Homo sapiens: one gene and its partners. The protein of the gene in region 1 purifies or fractionates together with the protein of each later gene. This does not show direct contact. Each region holds a gene or a part of one and is shown on either strand. Other genes may lie near its edges. The genes, in order: GDF3, PPM1A, NPTX1 and IDH3B.

Region 1 (3,659 bases):
ATTGGCTGGGTGTGGTGGCTTTTGCCTGTAATCCCAACACTTTGGGAGGCCGAGGTGGGCGGATCACCTGAGGTCAGGAGTTTGAGACCAGCCTGGCCAACATGGTGAAACCCCGTCTCTACTAAAAATACAATTAGCCAGACGTGGTGTGCACCTGTAATCCCAGCTACTCCAGAGGCTGATTCAGGAGAATTGCTTGAACCCGAGAGACGGAGGTTGCAGTGAGCTGAGATCAAGCCAGTGCACTCCAGCCTGGGCAACAGAGCAGGACTCCGTCTCAGAAAAAAAAAAAAAAAATTAAAGCCAATCTGAATGATTGGACTTTGGCCAACAACACCTGACTGTCTAGGTTGCTATTTTTTTTTTTTTTTTAACTGAGACGGAGTTTTGCTCTTGTTGCCCAGGCTGGAGTACAATGGTGTGATATCGGCTCACCACAACCTCTGCCTCCCAAATTCAAGTGATGCTCCTGCCTCAGCCTCCCGAGTAGCTGGGATTACAGGCATGTGCCACCCTGCCCGGCTAATTTTTTTGTATTTTTAGCAGAGACAGGTTTTCTCCATGTTGGTCAGTCTGGTCTCCTGACCTCAGGTTATCTGCCCGCCTTGGCCTCCCAAAGTGCTGGGATCACTGGTGTGAGCCACCATGTCCCGGCCCAGTCTATTGACTCTTTCTCAGAATAATGGTTTAAGTGCCTAAAGTAAAATATTTAGGATTTCAAAAGAAACCAATTAAATATTGAAATACATTTTAAAATTTTTTTAAAACTTTTTTTATTTTTTATTTATTTTTTATTTTTTGAGGCAGAGTCTTGCTCTGTCGCCCAGGCTGGAGTGCAGTGGCGTGATCTTGGCTCACTGCAAGCTCCGCCTCCCGGGTTCACACCATTCTCCTGCCTCAACCTCCTGAGTAGCTGGAACTACAGGCACCCTCCACCTTGCCCGGCTAATTTTTTGTATTTTTAGTAGAGATGGGGTTTTACCGTGTTAGCCAGGATGGTCTCGATCTCCTCATCTCGTGATCCGCCCGCCTCGGCCTCCCAAAGTGCTGGGATTACAGGCATGAGCCACCACGCCTGGCTTTTAAAATATTTTAAAGACAAATGTATATATAGTAATATATATAATGCTTTATTCATGTAATACATAACAAGATTTAGGGAGGTGACTATACCTATAACTACCATAAATTTCGGCATAGTGTTAGCATAAGTGTTTTGTTTTTTTTTTTCTTTTTCTTTTCTTTTATTTATTTATTTATTTTGTAGAGATGGGGTTTCACTATGTTGCCCAGGATGGTCTCAAACTCCTGGCCTCAAGCAAATCTCCCATCTCAGCCTCCCAACGTGCTGGGATTACAGGCATGAGCCACCTTGCCTGGACTCCATAAATATTTTAAGTTATTTGCAACAACTAAACGTATGAACACACCTATGATTTTATTGATAACAATGTCATAGGCCCTGATGATATTACTGGGATTTGTTACCTATATTCATAATGAAGGAAATGCTAAATTTCATTTAGAGTTTAGTGGAAATAATGATGTAATTATTTTTCCCATCTAAGTTCGTGCACCCTCTACATTTCATCCAGGAATCTCTGGGAACCTGTGGATGTGAAGATAAGAACCTCTGGCTTTCTTTTTTTTTTTTTTTGAGACGGAGTCTTGCTCTGTCACCCAGGCTGGAGTGCAATGGCGCGATCTCGGCTCACTGCAAGCTCCGCCTCCCGGGTTCACGCCATTCTCCTGCCTCAGCCTCCTGAGTAGCTGGGACTACAGGCGCCCGCCACCACGCCTGGCTAATTTTTGTATTTTTAGTAGAGACGGGGTTTCACCATGTTAGCCAGGATAGTCTCGATCTCCTGACCTCGTGATCCGCCCGCCTCGGCCTCCCAAAGTGCTGGGATTACAGGCGTGAGCCGCCGCACCTGGGGACCCTCTGGCTTTCAGGAATAGAGAAACAAACCCTCCCAAATGACAGGGCTTGTGTCTTTCCCTGCCCTTATATTGTATATGTGGGTGTCTGGCATTTCTATTATATAGGTGGATATGAAGTAAATACATCATTATGACTCTGACATGTCTCTTTTCCCATCTAGGTTTCTTTCTTTACCCAAAGAAAATTTCCCAAGCTTCCTCCTGCCTGCAGAAGCTCCTCTACTTTAACCTGTCTGCCATCAAAGAAAGGGAACAGTTGACATTGGCCCAGCTGGGCCTGGACTTGGGGCCCAATTCTTACTATAACCTGGGACCAGAGCTGGAACTGGCTCTGTTCCTGGTTCAGGAGCCTCATGTGTGGGGCCAGACCACCCCTAAGCCAGGTAAAATGTTTGTGTTGCGGTCAGTCCCATGGCCACAAGGTGCTGTTCACTTCAACCTGCTGGATGTAGCTAAGGATTGGAATGACAACCCCCGGAAAAATTTCGGGTTATTCCTGGAGATACTGGTCAAAGAAGATAGAGACTCAGGGGTGAATTTTCAGCCTGAAGACACCTGTGCCAGACTAAGATGCTCCCTTCATGCTTCCCTGCTGGTGGTGACTCTCAACCCTGATCAGTGCCACCCTTCTCGGAAAAGGAGAGCAGCCATCCCTGTCCCCAAGCTTTCTTGTAAGAACCTCTGCCACCGTCACCAGCTATTCATTAACTTCCGGGACCTGGGTTGGCACAAGTGGATCATTGCCCCCAAGGGGTTCATGGCAAATTACTGCCATGGAGAGTGTCCCTTCTCACTGACCATCTCTCTCAACAGCTCCAATTATGCTTTCATGCAAGCCCTGATGCATGCCGTTGACCCAGAGATCCCCCAGGCTGTGTGTATCCCCACCAAGCTGTCTCCCATTTCCATGCTCTACCAGGACAATAATGACAATGTCATTCTACGACATTATGAAGACATGGTAGTCGATGAATGTGGGTGTGGGTAGGATGTCAGAAATGGGAATAGAAGGAGTGTTCTTAGGGTAAATCTTTTAATAAAACTACCTATCTGGTTTATGACCACTTAGATCGAAATGTCAATATACCTGTGTTTATAATTTGTCTTCCTGAAAAACCCACCATAATTAACAATGCCCATACTTGCATGCGTGTGCACACACACACATCCTGGAGCCCTAATAATCATAGTTAATTTCTGTTCTAACATACTCATTATGCATATGACAGTATGGACACTGGCATTTACTGATGGCCGATTATGGGCAGGCATTATCCTACGTGTTACTTTACAAACATTTCACTGTCTTTGAGGGAAGTATTGTTATTTATGCTTTACAGACAAAGAAGCTGAGGTTTAGAGAAGCTAACAAATTTTCCTAAGGTCAGCAGCTCTCCCTGGCTCTCCCTGGCAAATCTGATATGCTAACAGCATTACATTAAAAATATTTGAGGCCGGGTGTGGTGGCTCACGCCTGTAATCCCAGCACTTTGAGAGGCTGAGGTGGGTGGATTATGAGGTCAGAAGATCGAGACCAGATTGACCAACATGGCGAAACCCCGACTCTACTAAAATACAAAAAATTAGCCGGGCATGGTGGTGCATGCCTGTAGTCCTAGCTACTTGGGAGGCTGAGGCACGGGAATCGCTTGAACCCAGGAGACCGGTTGTAGTGAGCTGAGATCGTGCCATTGCACTCCAGCCTGGCAACAGAGCAA
Region 2 (7,167 bases), on another chromosome or scaffold:
CTTGATAATAAGAAATATAAAACTTATTATTGTAACAAAATAACGTAAAGTGAATATTTCATAATTCCATCTAAAACTTAAAGTGTACACACTAAAGAGAAAAGTAGCAATTCATTTCTAAAATTGGATCCCATTTCATAGTAAAAATATTAAAATACTTATTACTTCTTTAAACCAATAAGAAAACATGTCTGCCCAAGTTAAAGTGCCAATACATTAAATATCAACTTATCCCTATACATATTATTCTTATGAATTTAAATTTTCCCATGAATCAATAGTTTGAACCAATGATTGTAGCATTCTAAATATTTTAAAATTGTACTATACCTATAAATAACTTATATTGAATGATTAATTTAAAATATAAAAATTCCAAGACCCTTGGTAACAGTAAGGAGACAAATTCGTTGAATAGTACGTCCAATGAATGCAATACTAAATAGTACAAACACATACTAGATGTATGACTATCAAGTGGCGGACAGCAATAAAAACAAAATAGTAGCTCTAGACAGTACTAAAGAACAAAACCAATCATGATTCTAGTATCAGACTGATTATGATTGGTATCAAACAGTAAAAAGGGGAAAAAAAATTAAAGTGAGTAGTAATTTCAATAATGCAGGCACAGTGGGATGTAGGTGTGGTAGGTCAATGCTTGCATGCGATTAGAGGTCTTTAACGTGCAAATTAACGACATTAGGAGCCTAAAATGCATTTTAACGCTATTTTTAAAATTTTTTTCTTGTTTTTTTTCTACCTCAGCTCACCAGCATTTTCATGTTTTAACACTATTAAAGTCATGTCAAGTTTTTCCACTTAGAGAAACTGCATAATATATACACTTTACTGCATATATGCAATAAACTGGAAGTCTCTGCAGAATTATGAGAAATATACTCCAGAAATGCTCAACTTATTTCTTAATCTTACTTGGCAGTTACTTTTCTGCCAGGTGGAGAAATATTATGTCTTTTATTGAGGTCTATCTTGTTTAGGTGAGACAGTTTATGGCTTAGGGAAGAAGCTCTGAAACAGTTTAAAGCAAATTTTTTAAAGCTGTGTATATAAAGTTGCTAATGATGAGGCTGTGATTTTCAAGTTATTGAAAAAAGGCCCTAGAGATTAAAATTAATATACACAGCTTTTCATAGAAAGATGGTATTCAAATTATCACCATCACAATCTCTTTGTAATTAAATAGACCACAAATCAGATTTTCCCGGCATAAAATTACTCATGCCAGTGAATTCATTAAGAATTTTAAAGCACACAAACATTTTAGCCTTTTAAAACAAAAGTATCCTGAACAGAATGTGGGTTACTTTCCACACTAGTTGTTATTTCTAATATAACTGTGATAGGACAACTGCATACATCTTAACAGCTACTACAGAAATGTCCTTTTCCACTTTCATACACTAGACACTAGCTGTCAAAGACACATAAAAATCTAAAAGCTAAAATGTTAAAGTTTGATTGTGTTGAAGATTTTTCTTTAATAAAGCTACTTATTTTTTGTTAAATGATCCACCTTCTACTCTGCATTCCAGGTACTTGTCCAACTCTGCCTCCTTCTTCACTGCTTCTGGCGATACTTTGGGTGCATTTGGAAAACAGATCAAAATCACACTCATGTTGTCTCGACTTCCCTGGGAAGAAAAAAATTTGAGAATATTTTAGTTTTCTTTTTGCTCTTCAAAGCCTTGAGAACCTTTACAGCTGTGCCAATTACAGTTATACTTGTTCTAGTGAAAATGTTACTTTCAGGGAGAAAAAAATACATATGTGCACGCATGCGTGCGTGTGTGTGTGCAATGACTCCCCCTCCCCCGAACAGTATAGAGAGAATACAGTATAACCAATACTCCAAAAGACAGGAGAGAAACATTACAGGTTAATCTCACTGTAATAATAATTTTTTATAATTCTATAAAACAATACTATTTCTAAACATTTACTGGTGACTTAATTTGAAGTGATACCTAATACAAATATACATGTGTACACACACTCCTTCCATACAACATGACAGAAAATTTTAGTGGCATTGTTTACAATAGGATTTGACCTGTAGTTATATGTACCTGATAAAATTACCTTTAAAATAAATTATAAATTGTGGGGCTAATACATTCGCTTCATAAGTAGAAATATGAAATAAGAGGTAAAACTACCTAAGGTTTATAAACCAGCTTTTAACTTGTATTAATTTTAAAAACTGACAACTTTTAGGAACTACATTCATTTTTAAAGACATCTAAGTATTCAAATGCTATAATTAAATATTTGAGTATCAAATATATACCCTCAGAAGAATTTTAAAAAGTCAACATTTGTTTAAAAAAACATCAAAGAATAAGTTAATAAGCATTATTGACAAAACAGAACAGAGTGTGGCAGAAAGAACACTGAACCCAAGTCAAGGGCCTTGATTTTCTAGTCTTAATGCTGTTAGCAATGTATAAAACCCTGTACACGTCATTTATAATATCTGTAGGAAAGGGTGTAGCATGTATTATATGCTAAACTAGGCATTATATATATATATATGTATATATATATATACACACACACATATATATATATATACATACGCTCATTAATTCCTCAACAGTCTTTTTTTTTTTTTTTGAGACGGAGTCTCGCTCTGTCGCCCAGGCTGGAGTGCAGTGGCGCGATCTCGGCTCACTGCAAGCTCCGCCTCCCGGGTTCACGCCATTCTCCTGCCTCAGCCTCCCGCGTAGCTGGGACTACAGGCGCCCGCCACCACACCCGGCTAATTTTTTGTGTTTTTTAGTAGAGACGGGGTTTCACTGTGTTAGCCAGGATGGTCTCGATCTCCTGACCTCGTGATCCGCCCACCTCGGCCTCCCAAAGTGCTGGGATTACAGGCGTGAGCCACCGCGCCCGGCAACAGTCTTATAAGATACTATTATCTCCATTTTAAAGCTGAGAGAGGTTGAACAATTCGTTCAGGAATGTAGAGTACAAAACTAATAGAGGTAAGCCTTGGTCTCAGGTCTGTCTGACTCTTAAGTTTGTAGAACCTTCTCTGGCTTCAGCTTCCTCATCTGTAAAATAAAGGGGCTGAGCTAGCTCACCTGTGTATATTATCCCATTTGATCCTCCTGACAACGCCATGAGACAAGATAATAATGTCTTATCCTTTTTATGATGAAAAAAACTGATTAGAGTTTAAATAGCTTACCTAAAACCATACACAGTCTCAGAGCAAGTTCTTCTGACTCCATGTACAAGGCTATTTCTATTACATCACGTCTAATGATCACTACATTCCTCTTTCAAGTGCTACAGACCATTAAACCTTAGTTTCAAAGGATTAGGATATCATAAATGTACTGAGATATCACATGGTCAAATATTAAAACTCTAAAATGCTTTTCATTTATAGACACTGAGGCCTAACCCTCCCCACCCTCTTTCTTTCAAAACATGCACTCTGATAAAATCTTTTTACCTTTGATAATCTTCCACATTATTACAAAGCTCAAGTAGTAAGACTAAACATTCAGCTTATAACTCTTGCAGAGATGGTAATTGGGTAATTTATTTCTACATAGTGGTCCTATGATATATTTTCATAATTGGTGAACAGTATCCTACAGTTGTGCCAAAAACTGGTTTCAGAATTACAGATTCTAAGATGATTAAATACTAGAGTAGTGATTAATATGGCATAAAATCATTTTATGTTTTTAAAAAAAGTCTAGCTACCTTATACAAACAGGTGTCGACTACTTCATTGCAAACTTTCTCAAGGTCATCAGTGACTTCAAGTCTGGATCTTACAAAATCACAGAGCTCTTCATTTCCCATAACATCCCAGATACCATCACATGCAAGGATAATGAACTGATCATCTTCTTCAGATCTTTCAATATCATGGACTTCAGGCTCTGGTGAGACAAGCTGCTCAGTAGGACCTTTTCCATGGACACATTTGTAATCAAAATCCCCAAGGGCCCTCGATACAGCCAGAGAGCCATTCACACGCTGAATCATTACAGAGCCACCTGCATTCTGAATTCGTTCTTTCTCCAGCGGATTACTTGGTTTGTGATCTTGTGTGAAGAAATGAACTTTCCTGTTCCTACAAAGTAAACCTCTTGAGTCTCCACAGTTAATGAAATAAGTATGTTGGGGAGAAATTAAGACACCTACAGCTGTTGACCCACTTCTATCTGCACCATGTTTCTTCTCTGACATAACTCTCATGTGTTCATCAATCTCCAGAAAACCTGTTCTGATTCCATTCTTTACATTTTCCACAGAAGGTGCTCCTGCAGACCCTTTAAAATCCTGGTTATTGGTGATGTGATCTAACAAATGCTCACAGCAGTATTTGGCAACCTGAGAACCAGCATGCCCATCATACACAGCAAAGAATGACCACGATTCAAGTCCACTTGGCAAACCGATCACAGCCGTATGTGCATCCTCCATTTCAACACGCCAGCCTTGCATGCTGCTTAGCCCATATCGCAACCCATTACCCTGCCCCTGGGCATTATGCTTTTCCATCTTTGGCTTGTCTAAAAATGCTCCCATTATGTCTTGATCCTCTAGGTCTGCAAAGGAAGAGAAACAGGAAAGTCAATAACTGTCTTATAAACAAAATATGTACCAAACAATCTTTTTAATAAGTGAAAGAGATATGCGGGAATTCACAACTCGCGATAAGCAGACATTCATTGTGTTGCTGACTTGGAATCTGGAGATTAACAAGGAGGAACTGGGGGAAAGCCTGATGAAGCACAGATCACAACAGACAAAAAGGCAGAAAAAAACTAAAGCATTGGGATAAAGGGGAGAAGGCAGAAAGGAGACCTGGCAGTGGCCATCAACTTAAACCAACCAGGCTAAATGTTTAATGATACAATGAACATGTGTAAGCTCAGGACTAAGTTGTATGTATATCAATTAAGAAAAGCCAAACGAATTCATGACATACCCAAAAAATCTACTAACTCAAATATATCTTGGTTGAACATTCAGGAATTTTCAAGCTTGATTCCAAACTCCCTAGTTTTATTCCCACTGCATGAACTCTGAAAAACTAAAAAATAATCTACTCACAATGCTCCAAATTTGCATGCTCCTTCAAGCCTTTGCTCATGTCAGTTTCCTTAACTGGAAACTCTTGCCTCATCCTATTTATAGAAAAAAGTATACCTATCCTTTTAAGTCTACCTTACATTCTACCTTTTCCATGAGGTTTTTCAGTTTTTGATAAAGTCAGTTAAGTTATTAAATTACTGTAAATGTTGTAGCCTCAAATTTCAAGTTGCAAGCAATTATATATATACATAACGAAGTGTACTGTATACATATATAACAAAATTACTACTAGTAATCTATTAATCATATAGTAATAACATGTACCATTATTATTATACTCTATGACCATTAGGTATATAAAGAAGATCAAAGGGTCTAGTGACAGCCCTGCTGACAAGCCTGAAGGCTCAGCTAATCTAATCCTTTTCCAATACTCAAAAGTTAACACCCGCTGGTCTAGAATGGGCCCACACAAGGCAAAGAGACAGCTGGTTAGAATTTACCTTGGCCCTTACTTGAACAATAGCTTAGAAATGTAGACACCTGGGTTCAAGTAATCAAGTAAGTCACAACTGAACTAAAGGCAATCCAAAAGAAGGATAGCATGATGAACAGAGATTTAATGGAGGTGAAGAGGAGTTAGGTAGTAGGGAATAATGGTGGAGAAAAGTATCTAGGTAAATCACTACGCAGCTCTGAAACTAGGGTATTGATGATGCTAATGATACTCAGCTCAGAGAGGAAACTGGGAGAAAAAGGGCAAGAAGAAAATCCTCCTAGGAAGGAAAGAAAAACATTTGTTTTCCCCTTCATTTTCCTTATAGGTCCAAACTGATACATAGGCAGAAAAGACTGGCTGATTGGCGTGATAAAACCATCTGCCTACTCCTCTGCCTCCTAGTACAGTTCAACTAACGAAAGGTAAGTAATGAAAACTAGCTATCATCCATCCCTTATGGTGATATTTATCAGATTATTTTTCTGACATCAAGTTGATACACACTGCAAAGGTGAGTATTTTGATTGGATAAAGGATAACGTAATAATGACACCTTATTAGCAGGCAATGTTTAAGAAGTATTCTAAGTCCCTCTGGTAAGTGTTTTACAAGCATTACTTCATTTAATCTCTTCAACAACTCTCTAAGGTAGATAATAATATTATCTCCAATTTATAGATGAAGAACCTTAGCCAAGATTAAAGAACTTGGCCAAGATCACTCAACTAATAAGTTTAAAGGAATCAGGGCTCTGATTCAAGTCTGCGTGACTCTAAAGCATCATTAACCCCTAAGAAAATGGGTCTCTACCATGGCTGTGCAACAGAATTATCTGTGGACTTTTTGAAAAATAAATATTTCCAAATCAGAATTTCCAGGGTAGGGTTGGAACCTAGGTATCTATGATTTTTAAATTTTCATATGTGATTCTGAGGCACAGTAAGGTTGCAAACTGCTGGAAAAGATTAGATGGAATGCCTAAGGCAGAAGATGGGGGCACATTAAGGGCCAACAAGAAATAATCAACCAAAATTGCAGTAACCAAGACCACTATCCTAGGTTACAAGACCACTATCCTAGACTAGAAACAACAAGGTGAAGTTTTACAGAGGAAAGACTCCACTACCTTGAGAAAAGGAAAGAAAAAAAGAGACGTGAGTGAAACTCAAAAAATTAAACACATTTAAGAGACAAACCAACAGAAAAGAATAGTAATGACAAACTTCCTTCCTCTACGAATTCACCAATAGCATGAAGTACTAAAGAAAATAAGTTATGAAATTAGACCAATGTGGGTTTAAATTCTGGCTCTACTACTTAGTAATAGTGTGACTACTGAACCTTTCCGAATCTCTTTCTCCATCTGTTCCTGTATAAGCATATAAGAAGGCAGCCAGGTGTGGTGGCTCACGCCTGTAATCCCAGCACTTTAGGAGGCCGAGGTGGGTGGATCATGAGGTCAGGAGTTCTAGACCAGCCTGGCCAATATGGTGAAACCCCGTCTCTACTAAAAATACAAAAATTAGCCAGGCATGGTGGCGCATGCCCGTAATCCCGGCTACTTGGGAGGCTGAGGCAGAAGA
Region 3 (7,106 bases), on another chromosome or scaffold:
CCCAAGGCACAGGGCCAGTCTGTAAAGAGCTGACCCAAGCTCTTCATGCTCCAGGTCTGGCCTGCTGTCACGCCCATGTGCTGGCATCCTTGGGGAGATGGGGGTGGGGGGCAGTGCCTGGTGGGCTGCTGCATCAACACTGGGCTGCGTGGTGGGCATGAGAAGGGAATGGGGACAGCCGCCAAGCCAAGTCAACCCAAGGAGCAGGGGTGGCTGCAGAGGAGGAACGAGGCTAGCTACCCTGAGAGTAACCGACCTGATTCCAGGATGGGGCGGGGCTCAGAGCCTCTCCTCGCTCAATCCCAGGCTCTGCTCCTGCCTCTCCCCACCCGACAGCCAGGCCCTGGTGCCCACACACTTCCCTCCAGGCCAGATGTGCCTCTGACCCACCAATGCCTCTTGGGTGTGAGGCTGGGCAGCTCCCCACCTCCAAGGCCCTTCCTTGGAGCAGGGACTCTGCCTGGAGCTCTGCTGAGAGGGCAGGGCAGCAAGGAGCTGGGAGTACTCTGGGCGCCAGGGCTCCCCAAGGTGACTGCTCTAGGATGCCGCCACACTCTCAGGTGAGTAAGTGTCCTCACAGCTCAGGTTCCAGGCCTGGTGGCCTCCCTTTCCACAAGGCCCACCTTCTCCCTCCCCACCGGCCACTTCTCCCGTAAGCGCCAACCCCCATAGCCCATCTATATACTGTGGCACCCTGGGTATGGTGTGACTGACTCCAGGCAAAACATTCCTGGCCAGCAATGGGCACAGTAGCAGGCCCAGAGCCCAGGAACACACACCCCTTGGTCAATCCCTGGGTGAGCAGCCGTGGTCCTGCCAGGAAGCCCAGAAAGAAACCAGTTCCCCAGGCCAAAAATTATTTCTAGAAGACATCCTGCCCGGTCAGCAACCACCCCCTCCTCTAAACCAACTGGCAGGGAGCAGAGCAGGGCAGGCCCCCTCAGTGCAGCACCCCAGCGGCTACCCCAACCCATTGAGGCCTGCAGTGGGGGATAGGGAGGGGCCCAGCCCCTGGCCTTTCTCCGGGTGTTTTTCATTCCCCAATCTCCGCTCCTTCCCTCTCCCTCCCTCCTGAGGTCCTTCCTTCTGATCTGTTTTTCAGTTACATAACAAGCCTTAAGATGGCACTGTTTAAATCTGTCCGGCACATTTTGCGGTCTGAGCAGGGTCACGTGGCCTTGCTCCGCACCGGGCACCCCCCCCCCTCCCCTTTTACAACCTTGTTTGATTTCTGCGACTTCAAGACAGAGCCTCCAGCGCTCATCCAGGCGCCCTGGGTGATAGACTGGCTGGCCTGAGTTGGTGACTGAGAAACCTCAGGGATTTGAAAGATGCCAGGACTTGGGTCACTCAGAAAAGAAAACCTCAGGGTAGGGGTTCAGGACAGAAGTGGGGAGGAGCTGGAGATCCTGAGAGGACACCGGGGGCATGGCAGCCGGGAAGAAACCTGCTTAACAGCCTCAGCGGCCCGGGGAACGAGAGCGCCCAGCCCCAGCCTGCACCCAGCTGTACGCTGAGGCTGGGGACCAGGGAGAGACAGGCTTTCTTAAGCAGGGAGGGTTTGAGCCAGCGACAGCCACTGTGCAAAGTTACTGAGGATTAAACAAATCAGACTTGAAAAATCCAGCGAGTGTGTGAGTGTGTCTGGATGGGGGAGGGGGCACTATGCAATCCCCTTTCCCAGAGACAGCCCCAGCCCAAGGCACCCAGCCCTGATAGAAACACCGACTAGAAGCCCAGAACCTGGGAAGGGGTGCGGGGAATGAGAAAGCGGTGCAGGGGTTGGGGGTAGCGGAGCGGCTTGAGGCTTGCACAGTGCAGAGCTGGGCTGTTAGGGATCGGGACCGAGGCAGGGTCGGGCAAGCAGGTGCAGGCAGGCAGCACGGCTCCCCCTGGCCCCAGTACCTTTCTCGAGCTCGCTGATCCGCTGGTGCAGGGAGGTCAGGGCGGTCTCGATCTTGACCCTCTCCTCGGTGTCGTTCCTGGGGCCCCCCTTGCCCTCCTCCAGGGTGTTCACCCGGGACAGCACCTGCCTCTCCAGCTCATCGATCTTGCTCTGCAGCAGATCCTTGAGGCTGTTGGTCTGGCTGGAGGAATTGAGGCGGCTGTACTGCTGCGGGGTGCAAGGGCGGGGGAAACCACACCGTTAGGCGAGGCGCGGGGACCGTGCTGGAAGGCCCGCGGCGCGGTCCCCTCTGGGCGACTGCGGGGGCGGCCTGGCAGGGAGCTGGGGCGAGTGGCCGCCGCGGGGCCTCGCAGGCGCGGGGAGGCACCGGCCGGGCACCCGCGCGGCTGAGGCGAGGGCGGGGGATGCCTGGCCGGGTAGGGAACGGGGTGGGGGAGGGCAGAGGGGCGAGCGAGCCGGAGGGGGAACCGGAGCCGAGGGCGCGCGCGGACCTCGAGGTTCTCCAGGCGGGTTTTGAGCGATTGCAAAGTTTGCCCGAGTTGGCTGAGCGTCTCGGCGGCCGGTGTCCGGGACAGGTCGCCCATGGTGTTCTTGCCCGAGCCGGGCTGCTTGCGGCCGCCGCCCGCCCGGGCCTCGCCGGCTCCGGGGTCCAGCGTGCTCTGGCTCTCGCAGCGGCCCAGCTTGGCGGTCAGCTCGCGGATGGTCTCCTTCTGGCTCAGGATGGTCTCCTTCTGCTGCAGCACCGTCTCGCGGAGCTGCAGCACGCTGCTCCGGAGCTCCTCGGCGCCGCCGGCGGCCACGGACGCGGCGCACATGTCGGCGTCCACGGGCACCGAGGTGCAGATGAAGCGCGTCGGCCCGAAATCCTGGGCCCCGGCGCCCAGGAGGCAGAGGGCGAGCAGCGCACAGGTGCGCGCGGCGCGGCCGGCCGGCATGGCTGCGGGCACCGGGCGCTCCGGGCCCGGCTCGGCTCGGCTGGGGCTCGGCTCCGGCTGGGACCCGGCTCGGGCTGTGGCTCCGCGAGCGGCCCGCGCTCTGGGCGCCGCGCTCTTCGGCCGCGCGGTCCACACCGCCGCGCTATCAGGCCCCCACTGCCGCCTGCGCTGCGGAGCCCGCGCCTTTTATGCCGCCGCGGGAGGGGCCTCGAGCCGCCGACGTCAGCGGGGGAGGAATCCCGCTTTAATTGTCCGCGGCCCGGGCCCGCGGCGCGGCGGGGGTCTCACGAGCGCGCCACCGGGGCTGCCTCCGCTCGCGTCCCCCCCGCCCTTCTGGGAGCTGCCGCGGCCCCCTCCTCCCCCGCCCCCGCCTGGGCCGGCGCTGCTGCCCCGAAGGCTCCGAGAGCTCAGGGGGAAGGAAGTCGGGCTCCGGCCCCGGACTCGAGGATGGACCACCTGCGTGGTGTCCCCGAACCTCCGACGGGGCTCCAGGCGGGCGGGAAACCACCGCGTCCGGGAGATAGAATTCGGTTCGGCCCTCCTGGCTGCACTGAACACCCTTGGGCCGGGGTCGTTTGGAGCCGGGCTGGGTGCCCAAGGACCCAGGTCGTCAACACCCGAGTGCCCGGTGGTCAACGGCTCGGAGTGGGGCCTCGCGGCGCCACTAAGTCCAGAGCGGGGGTCACCGGGCCGCCCCGCGTTTCTTAGATGTCCGTGTGCTATTGAGAAGCCGCCGGGCAGCCTGGGTACAGGGACTTCCCACGGGTCGGGGCCCCCGGCGCCTCCCCTCCCCCAGCTCCCGGGCTCTGTGGACCCGGCCCCGTCCCCGGGGGACTGTCAGTCCCCACCCCGTGCGGGCGGGGCGCTGGGGACTTCTCGGAGGCAGACCTAGCTGATCGAGCCTTTCCTGTCCGCGGCGCCGGCCCGATCGCGGGCAGGCGGCGTCGCCGGGGCTGGACGTTCGCAGCGGCGCTTCGGAAGGGGGCCCCGCGGGAGCAGCCGCCCGCGTCTCCAGCAGCTTCCCCTTGCCAGGCGCCGCGCGCGCCCGGTATCCCCGGGTGTCCACCTGTGCGTGGGGGGCTGTTTCCCGTCTGTCCAGCCGCGCCCACTTCTCAGGCCCAAAGGCCAGCAGGAAGGGTCCCGGAGGTGGCTGGGGGCGTCCACCTGAGAAGCTCCGCTCTCGCTCAGACACCCCACCCGGCACCCGCGCACTCGCGCCTTCATCTGGACCGCGGGGCTCGGCTCCCGAGATCGCGGTCCGGGTTCCGGCGCCGGGCTGGGGGCTCAGGACCAGGGCTGGCGCAGCCGCCCCGCCCCGCCCCGCCCCGGGGCTATCAGAGCGGTCAAAGCCTCGGAAATCCCTCCGTCCACGCTCCCGTGGTACAGAGAAGGAAACTGAGGCTCCGAGACTGCGGGGCCGGGCTACAGCCGTGGCCCCCCGACCCCTCCCCGCCGCCCCCGGCTTCTCTGGTCTCTGCGTTCTGCAGCCTTTCCCTGCGCGCAGCCGGGGGCTGGGGGTCCCCAGCCAGCAGGGACCCACGGGCAGTCCCGGGTGCCGGGATCGGGCGTCCGCCCCTCGGGCGGGAGCAGAGGCCGGCTCGATGGAGACCTTTTTGAGAAATGGCGGCCTCTACCCGCCCCCCAGCCCCCGAGCGCCCGCCGTCTGCGTTCAGCATCTCAGCTTTTAAGCCTCCCTGAGCCGGGGCTGCGTTCTCGTTGTCTCCTTCGGCCGCCGCTTCCTGGCGCCAGAGGGACCCCGCGGCCCGCACGGGCCTGTCCTCGGCTCCGCTCGGAGGGTGTGCGGGTTCCCGCTCCGCTGGCCCCGCTTGCCCACCACGGCGCGCCCAAACCCACGCGGCCCGCGGCCCCTTGCGTGCTCTGCCGACCCCGGGCCGCAGGAGGGGTTAGCCTCGCCGGTCCCCACGCGGGGTCTGCGCCGGCAGCGCCACGGGCTGGAACGCGCCTCGGGAGAAATTACCCGCGCGGGGTCGCGGCGTCTTCTGCCCCAACTCCCGTAGGGAGCCGCTAGGCGGGTGCCCTCCTGGCCCCAGCGCTTTGGCCTCGCCGCCCTCCCGCACGCGTCCAGTGGGGAGGCCGCGCCCGTCAGGCCTGGAGCCGGACCGTGCCCAGCCGAGAGCGCGCGGGCGCGGGAGAGGAGCCCTGCCCTGCCCAGGGCAGGCTGTTTAGACGGGGCGGGAACCCTTAGCCTGGCCCCGCGTCTCTATCCCCAGCAGCCGTGGAGCCTTCCTAGCCGCCCAAGGCCAGGGACCCTGCCTGGCTTTTCCTCCAGGGCAGCAGATCTCAGCGGCCTGGCACCTCGGCACAGAGGAGCGTGTCCCCCTTCCGCAGAGGAAGGGAGTGGACGGCGTCAGAAAGGGAGGGGAGCCTGGGGCGGTGTCTGGGGCTAGCGGGACCTCTGGGCACTGTGGGGCCCCAGGAGAGGAGACCCTCGGGTCCAGCCTGCAACTGTTGTGCAGGAGGCGCTGGGCGGGACACCTGCAGGCGCTGCACACACACGCGAGGGCCACCATGCCGCGTTTCTCCTTCACAAGACCCTGGGCAAGCGGAGGGTCGTATTTAGGATTCCCTCGGCCTCCCCAGTGTTCTGAAAGTATCTGAGAGGGAGGGAGCAGGAAAACGAAGGGCCGCCCTGCCCAAACTCATCGGGGTGTCTGGTTACTAGGTCGGAAGAGGGGGGATGGTGTTGTGAACAGCCAGTGATCCCGGCCCTGCCTGAGTCCCACACCCCAGATGCAGCTGGGGTGAGGGAGGCGATCCCGTAATATTCCCAGCCGCGTACATTTGTGGCTGCCTGTGACACGACCTCACTCATTGGGAAACCATGCACACTAGCACACTGTTATTTTATTTTTGAGACAGGGTCTTGCTCTGTTGCCTAGGCTGGAGTGCGGTGGCGCAATCACAGCTAACTGCAGCCTCGACCTCTTGGGCTCAAGCGATGCTTCCTGCACCACCACACTTCAGCTAATTTTTTTTGTTTTTTTCGTAGAGATGGTTGAACTCCTCTTGCCTTGGTCTTGGGACTACAGGTGCAAGCCACAGCGCCCGGCCTAGCACAATAGTACTTATTATACTACTCCCACCATAACGGTGCAATAGATGTGAATAAAACTCAAAAGCATAGACAAGGCTGGGCGCAGTGGCTCACGCCTGTAATCCCAGCACTTTGGAAGGCCAAGCTGGATCACATGAGGTCAGGAGTTTGAGACCAGCCTGGCCAACATGGTGAAACCCCGTCTCTACCAAAAATACAAAAATTAACCAGGTGTGGTGGCACACATCTGTAATCCCAGCTACTTGAGAGGCTGAGGCAGGAGAATCACCTGAACCTGGGAGGCAGAGGTTGCAGTGAGCCGAGATCGAACCACTGCACTCCAGCCTGGATGACAGAGCAATACTGTGTCTCAAAAAAAAAAAAGATAGACAATAGTTCAATGTAAGAAAATAATTAGAAAGTGATGAGTTTGTAGTATTTATTGCCCATTTAAAATATAATTTATTTAATTATAAGTTTACTTAGTTTAAAATGTAATAGTGGCTGTGTTTAACCATCGACCTGTGAAATTCCTGCAAATGCCACCATCAGTGGGTACTGGCCGGCTCAGCTCACTCCTGGTGGAAGGGCACGGAGAGGCCTGCAGAGGTTAGTTGGTAGTGGGAGGGGGAGTGTAGAGAAGGCAAAGGGGGCAGGTGTCCAGGAGAGGCCCTGGTTAGTGGCCAGTATGGAGAGGGTGGCCAGGCATAAGAAGACTAGACAGACCGGGTGCAGGGGCTCACGCCTTGAATCCCAGCACTTTGGGAGGCCGAGGTGGGTGGATCTCTTGAGCCCAGGAGTTTGACACCAGCCTGGACAACATGGCAAAATCTCATCTCTACAAAAATACAAAAATTAGCCAGGCATGGTGGGGTGCACCTGCAGTCCCAACTACTCTGGGGACTGAAGTGGGAGGATTGTTTGAGCTCGAGAGGTTGACGCTGCAGTGAGCCGAGACCACGTCACTGCACTCCAGCCTGGGCAACACAGCAAGATCCTGTCTCAAAAAAAAAAATTTTAAAAAAAGAAGGCTAGCCGGGTAGGTTGGGAGGTATTAAGAGGACCTCAGTGCCCATCAAGAGTCTTTACTCAGTGGACGGTGGGAGCTCATGCAGGGGTGTGCCTAAGCCTGGTGGGTGCCTGTGCCCCTTGCTCATCCTGCCGTATCTCCCCGGCCTCTCATCTTCCAGGCCATGCCTTGAGCTTATCT
Region 4 (3,489 bases), on another chromosome or scaffold:
GTGTCTCTCACACACGCACACACACACACACACACACACACAGAAAATGCAATAGATGAAATGTTTCTGGCTTTAACTACATTATTCTCTTTTGTCCCTTGCCCCCAGAGACAATTTAAAAGTTTACTGATGTGGGAATGGGAGATGGGAGTCTGGGTTACATGATGTTCCTAAGGGGGTTAGACACTGGTCTGAGTTCCCTTGGGCTTGGCCTGTGGCTGACACTCCTTTTCCCACTTTGTTTTCACAGGAAAGATTCATACCCCGATGGAGTATAAGGGGGAGCTAGCCTCCTATGATATGCGGCTGAGGTAGGTGGTCTGGGTGGGGTGAATGGTTGAGAGGTGCCAGGGCACCAGGAGCAGAGCTGATGGCCCTGCCCACCCTCAGGCGTAAGTTGGACTTATTTGCCAACGTAGTCCATGTGAAGTCACTTCCTGGGTATATGACTCGGCACAACAATCTAGACCTGGTGATCATTCGAGAGCAGACAGAAGGGGAGTACAGCTCTCTGGAACATGAGGTGAGGCCCCAGAAACTGGGGGAGGGCAAGGATGAAGATGGGAGAGAGGTGGAGCTCCTTGTTTCCCTTCCCAGTGTCACCTAGCTGCTGCTTTCTTCTTACCCAGAGTGCAAGGGGTGTGATTGAGTGTTTGAAGATTGTCACACGAGCCAAGTCTCAGCGGATTGCAAAGTTCGCCTTTGACTATGCCACCAAGAAGGGGCGGGGCAAGGTCACTGCTGTCCACAAGGCCAACATCATGTGAGGGGCATGGCTTTGTGTAGGATGGGTTCCTGGGAAGGTAGCCCCTGTACTTTCTTGGCTGATTCTGTCCCCTTTGGCCCATGGACAGGAAACTTGGGGATGGGTTGTTCCTGCAGTGCTGTGAGGAAGTTGCTGAACTGTACCCCAAAATCAAATTTGAGACAATGATCATAGACAACTGCTGCATGCAGGTGAGGCCTCCCCACATCTCTACTCATGGGGCGGAGGAGGAGGGTGGGGAGTGGAATTTACTTCATGCCTGCATCTCACCCTCTAGCTGGTGCAGAATCCTTACCAGTTTGATGTGCTTGTGATGCCCAATCTCTATGGGAACATTATTGACAATCTGGCTGCTGGCCTGGTTGGGGGAGCTGGTGTGGTCCCTGGTGAGAGCTATAGTGCAGAATACGCAGTCTTTGAGACGGTGAGGCTGCTTTCTCCCTCGGCCCTTCCTCTGACCTCAAGTCCGCCATTCCTCTCCCATCCCAATATCTCCACTTCCTAAGTGATCTTGGCCTGTTCTTCCCCCACGCTGCCCACCATGCCTCTTTTCAGTGACCCTGGCCTGAGCTCCCCCTCCCATAATGTCCTTTTCCAACCTAAGCCTCTGCATACCCCTCCTGCCTCCTCCCAGTGTCTAGCCTGCCCCTCTCTCCACAGGGTGCCCGGCACCCATTTGCCCAGGCAGTGGGCAGGAATATAGCCAATCCCACGGCCATGCTGCTGTCGGCTTCCAACATGCTGCGGCATCTTAAGTAGGTCATGGGAGGCTGTCGGCAGAGGTTGGGTGTCGTGAGGAGGAGCAGGTGGGGAAATTAGCGGGAGGTGTCTTGGGGGAGTCACAGTTTCTTCCTGTCCATATCCACAGTCTTGAGTATCACTCCAGCATGATCGCAGATGCGGTGAAGAAGGTGATCAAAGTTGGCAAGGTGAGTTGAGAAGAGTAGTGCTGGCTTCAGGATTTAGAGTAGTTCTGGTGTCAGCACCTCGGCACTACCCTCTGGGGAACCTGAATGGGGGTCTCCTTTCCCCCCAGGTCCCCAGAACATCTGCTCCCTGACATCCCTGCATCCCTCTCAGGGCTGTTCTTCATCTCCCTTCTCTTGGCTGTTTCATCCTCTTGATCTCTTTTGCCTCTTAGATCCCATCTGCTGTTCCCTCTTTCCTGCTCCATCCACTGCCCTTTTCATGGGCCATCTGAATGCAGAACTTGCAGCTCTCCTTGGGGGTGGAACAGCAAGGGATACAGGCAGGCTGAAGCATCAGCTTCACCTTCACGCCCCATCTCCTTTTCGCTGTGATTCTTTCCTTCCACCTGGTCTTGTCTCTATTTCTTCCAAGGAAGGTAGCCACATCCTGCCTCTGATCTGCGTTTCCCATCATCTTTGCCTGCTCAGCCTCCTGTCCTGCCCTGGCTGCAGCACAGCTAATAGTGGCTTAAGAGGAGTGGCAGGTCCATGTGCTTCCCATCCTGGCTCCTCCTTCCATTCCTGTGCATTGCCTTTTTTCTGGCTGTCACGCATTCTTGGCTTCCATTTCCTCAATCACATTGCCCTACCTCCCTTCATGGGCTCTCTTTTCTCCCTCCCCACGGCTGTTGCCGGTGGTGGCTGTAGGTGCGGACTCGAGACATGGGCGGCTACAGCACCACAACCGACTTCATCAAGTCTGTCATCGGTCACCTGCAGACTAAAGGGAGCTAGAGCCCTTTATTTCTTCCAACCTTGCAAGGACCACACTCCCCATACCCTTCAGTGCAGTGTACCAGGGAAGAGACCTTGTGCCTCTAAGCAGTGGACCATGGTCACCTTGCTGGGTAGAGCCTAGGTTGTCCTTGGGCCGGCTTCCTTAGGGGACAGACTGTTGGGTGGTGATGGGGATTGTTAGGATGGAGCCCAGGCCACATGGATGATGATGATTCTCCCCCACAGGTTCGAACCTCTGACATGGGTGGCTATGCTACTTGCCATGACTTCACTGAGGCTGTCATTGCTGCCTTGCCCCACCCATAGGCCCTGTCCATACCCATGTAAGGTGTTCAATAAAGAACATGAACCAACTCTTGTGAATTTGTTTTTATTGGGGAACACGGCACAGGGTGGGAAATGTCACCTTGGGCTATGGTATGCCCCACCTCCCAGAGAATGTCCATTTGCATTCTAATCTTCCTGGGATGCTTTATGGAACTTTTTCTTCTTCTTGGAGCTGCTCTTGCCAACCGCCTCTTCAGGCCCACTGCTGACCGGCTCCTCTTTGGAGAATTTCCTCTTTTTCTTGGAGCCACTTCTGTGGCCTGCCTCCTCAGGGTCATTAACTGTTTCCTCCTTGGGTGTAGACTTCTTCCTCTTGGGAATACTGGTGCTGCCAGCGGTCTCTTCAAGATCGCTACTCATCAACTCCTCCTTGGAAAAAGATTTCTTTTTCTTGGGTTTGGAGAAAGAGATAGATGGGTCTTCCATTCCATTCTCCTGAGGAACCTCCTGGGGCTTTTGCTTTTTCTTCTTTTTGGGTTTTTCACTCATCTCCTAAAGGGAAGGACAGGGGAACAGGCTGTGAGAACAGTGCTCATTACATCTTCAGCAATTAAGTAGCCAAGGCAGGGGAACGCGTGTCGTTAACATTGCCCAGTGTTTCTGGGATAGTTTAATTGTGTGGGTATAACTTTAGAAATCCACCCCAAAGGCTGTCCCAAATTAGAAGGAAAACATGTCATGAGAAATTAC

What was found.
Region 2: the proteins of GDF3 (region 1) and PPM1A purify together in Homo sapiens (affinity purification with mass spectrometry; 3 studies listed by BioGRID and IntAct, with this or other methods). This does not show direct contact.
Region 3: the proteins of GDF3 (region 1) and NPTX1 purify together in Homo sapiens (affinity purification with mass spectrometry; 2 studies listed by BioGRID and IntAct, with this or other methods). This does not show direct contact.
Region 4: the proteins of GDF3 (region 1) and IDH3B purify together in Homo sapiens (affinity purification with mass spectrometry; 3 studies listed by BioGRID and IntAct, with this or other methods). This does not show direct contact.

Annotation. Positions count from the first base shown.
Region 1 is NC_000012.12:7,689,148-7,692,806, reverse strand, and holds the end of GDF3 (growth/differentiation factor 3 preproprotein), read left to right. Parts: intron 1-2,102; coding exon 2,103-2,929; 3' UTR 2,930-3,023; downstream 3,024-3,659.
Region 2 is NC_000014.9:60,280,112-60,287,278, reverse strand, and holds part of PPM1A (protein phosphatase 1A), read right to left. Parts: intron 4,596-7,167; coding exon of another isoform or gene 4,576-4,595; coding exon 3,742-4,575; intron 1,656-3,741; coding exon 1,538-1,655; coding exon of another isoform or gene 1,515-1,537; exon of another isoform or gene 1-1,514. UniProt on the Homo sapiens protein: Enzyme with a broad specificity. Negatively regulates TGF-beta signaling through dephosphorylating SMAD2 and SMAD3, resulting in their dissociation from SMAD4, nuclear export of the SMADs and termination of the TGF-beta-mediated signaling.
Region 3 is NC_000017.11:80,473,606-80,480,711, forward strand, and holds the start of NPTX1 (neuronal pentraxin-1 precursor), read right to left. Parts: upstream 3,003-7,106; 5' UTR 2,842-3,002; coding exon 2,398-2,841; intron 2,114-2,397; coding exon 1,906-2,113; intron 1-1,905. UniProt on the Homo sapiens protein: May be involved in mediating uptake of synaptic material during synapse remodeling or in mediating the synaptic clustering of AMPA glutamate receptors at a subset of excitatory synapses.
Region 4 is NC_000020.11:2,657,731-2,661,219, reverse strand, and holds the end of IDH3B (isocitrate dehydrogenase [NAD] subunit beta, mitochondrial isoform a precursor), read left to right. Parts: intron 1-250; coding exon 251-311; intron 312-390; coding exon 391-523; intron 524-629; coding exon 630-763; intron 764-854; coding exon 855-957; intron 958-1,043; coding exon 1,044-1,190; intron 1,191-1,426; coding exon 1,427-1,521; intron 1,522-1,634; coding exon 1,635-1,695; intron 1,696-1,907; coding exon of another isoform or gene 1,908-1,967; exon of another isoform or gene 1,968-2,205; intron 2,206-2,382; coding exon 2,383-2,469; 3' UTR 2,470-2,697; coding exon of another isoform or gene 2,698-2,778; 3' UTR 2,779-2,825; downstream 2,826-3,489. Other genes in the region: NOP56 (nucleolar protein 56), read right to left, coding at 2,926-3,291. UniProt on the Homo sapiens protein: Plays a structural role to facilitate the assembly and ensure the full activity of the enzyme catalyzing the decarboxylation of isocitrate (ICT) into alpha-ketoglutarate.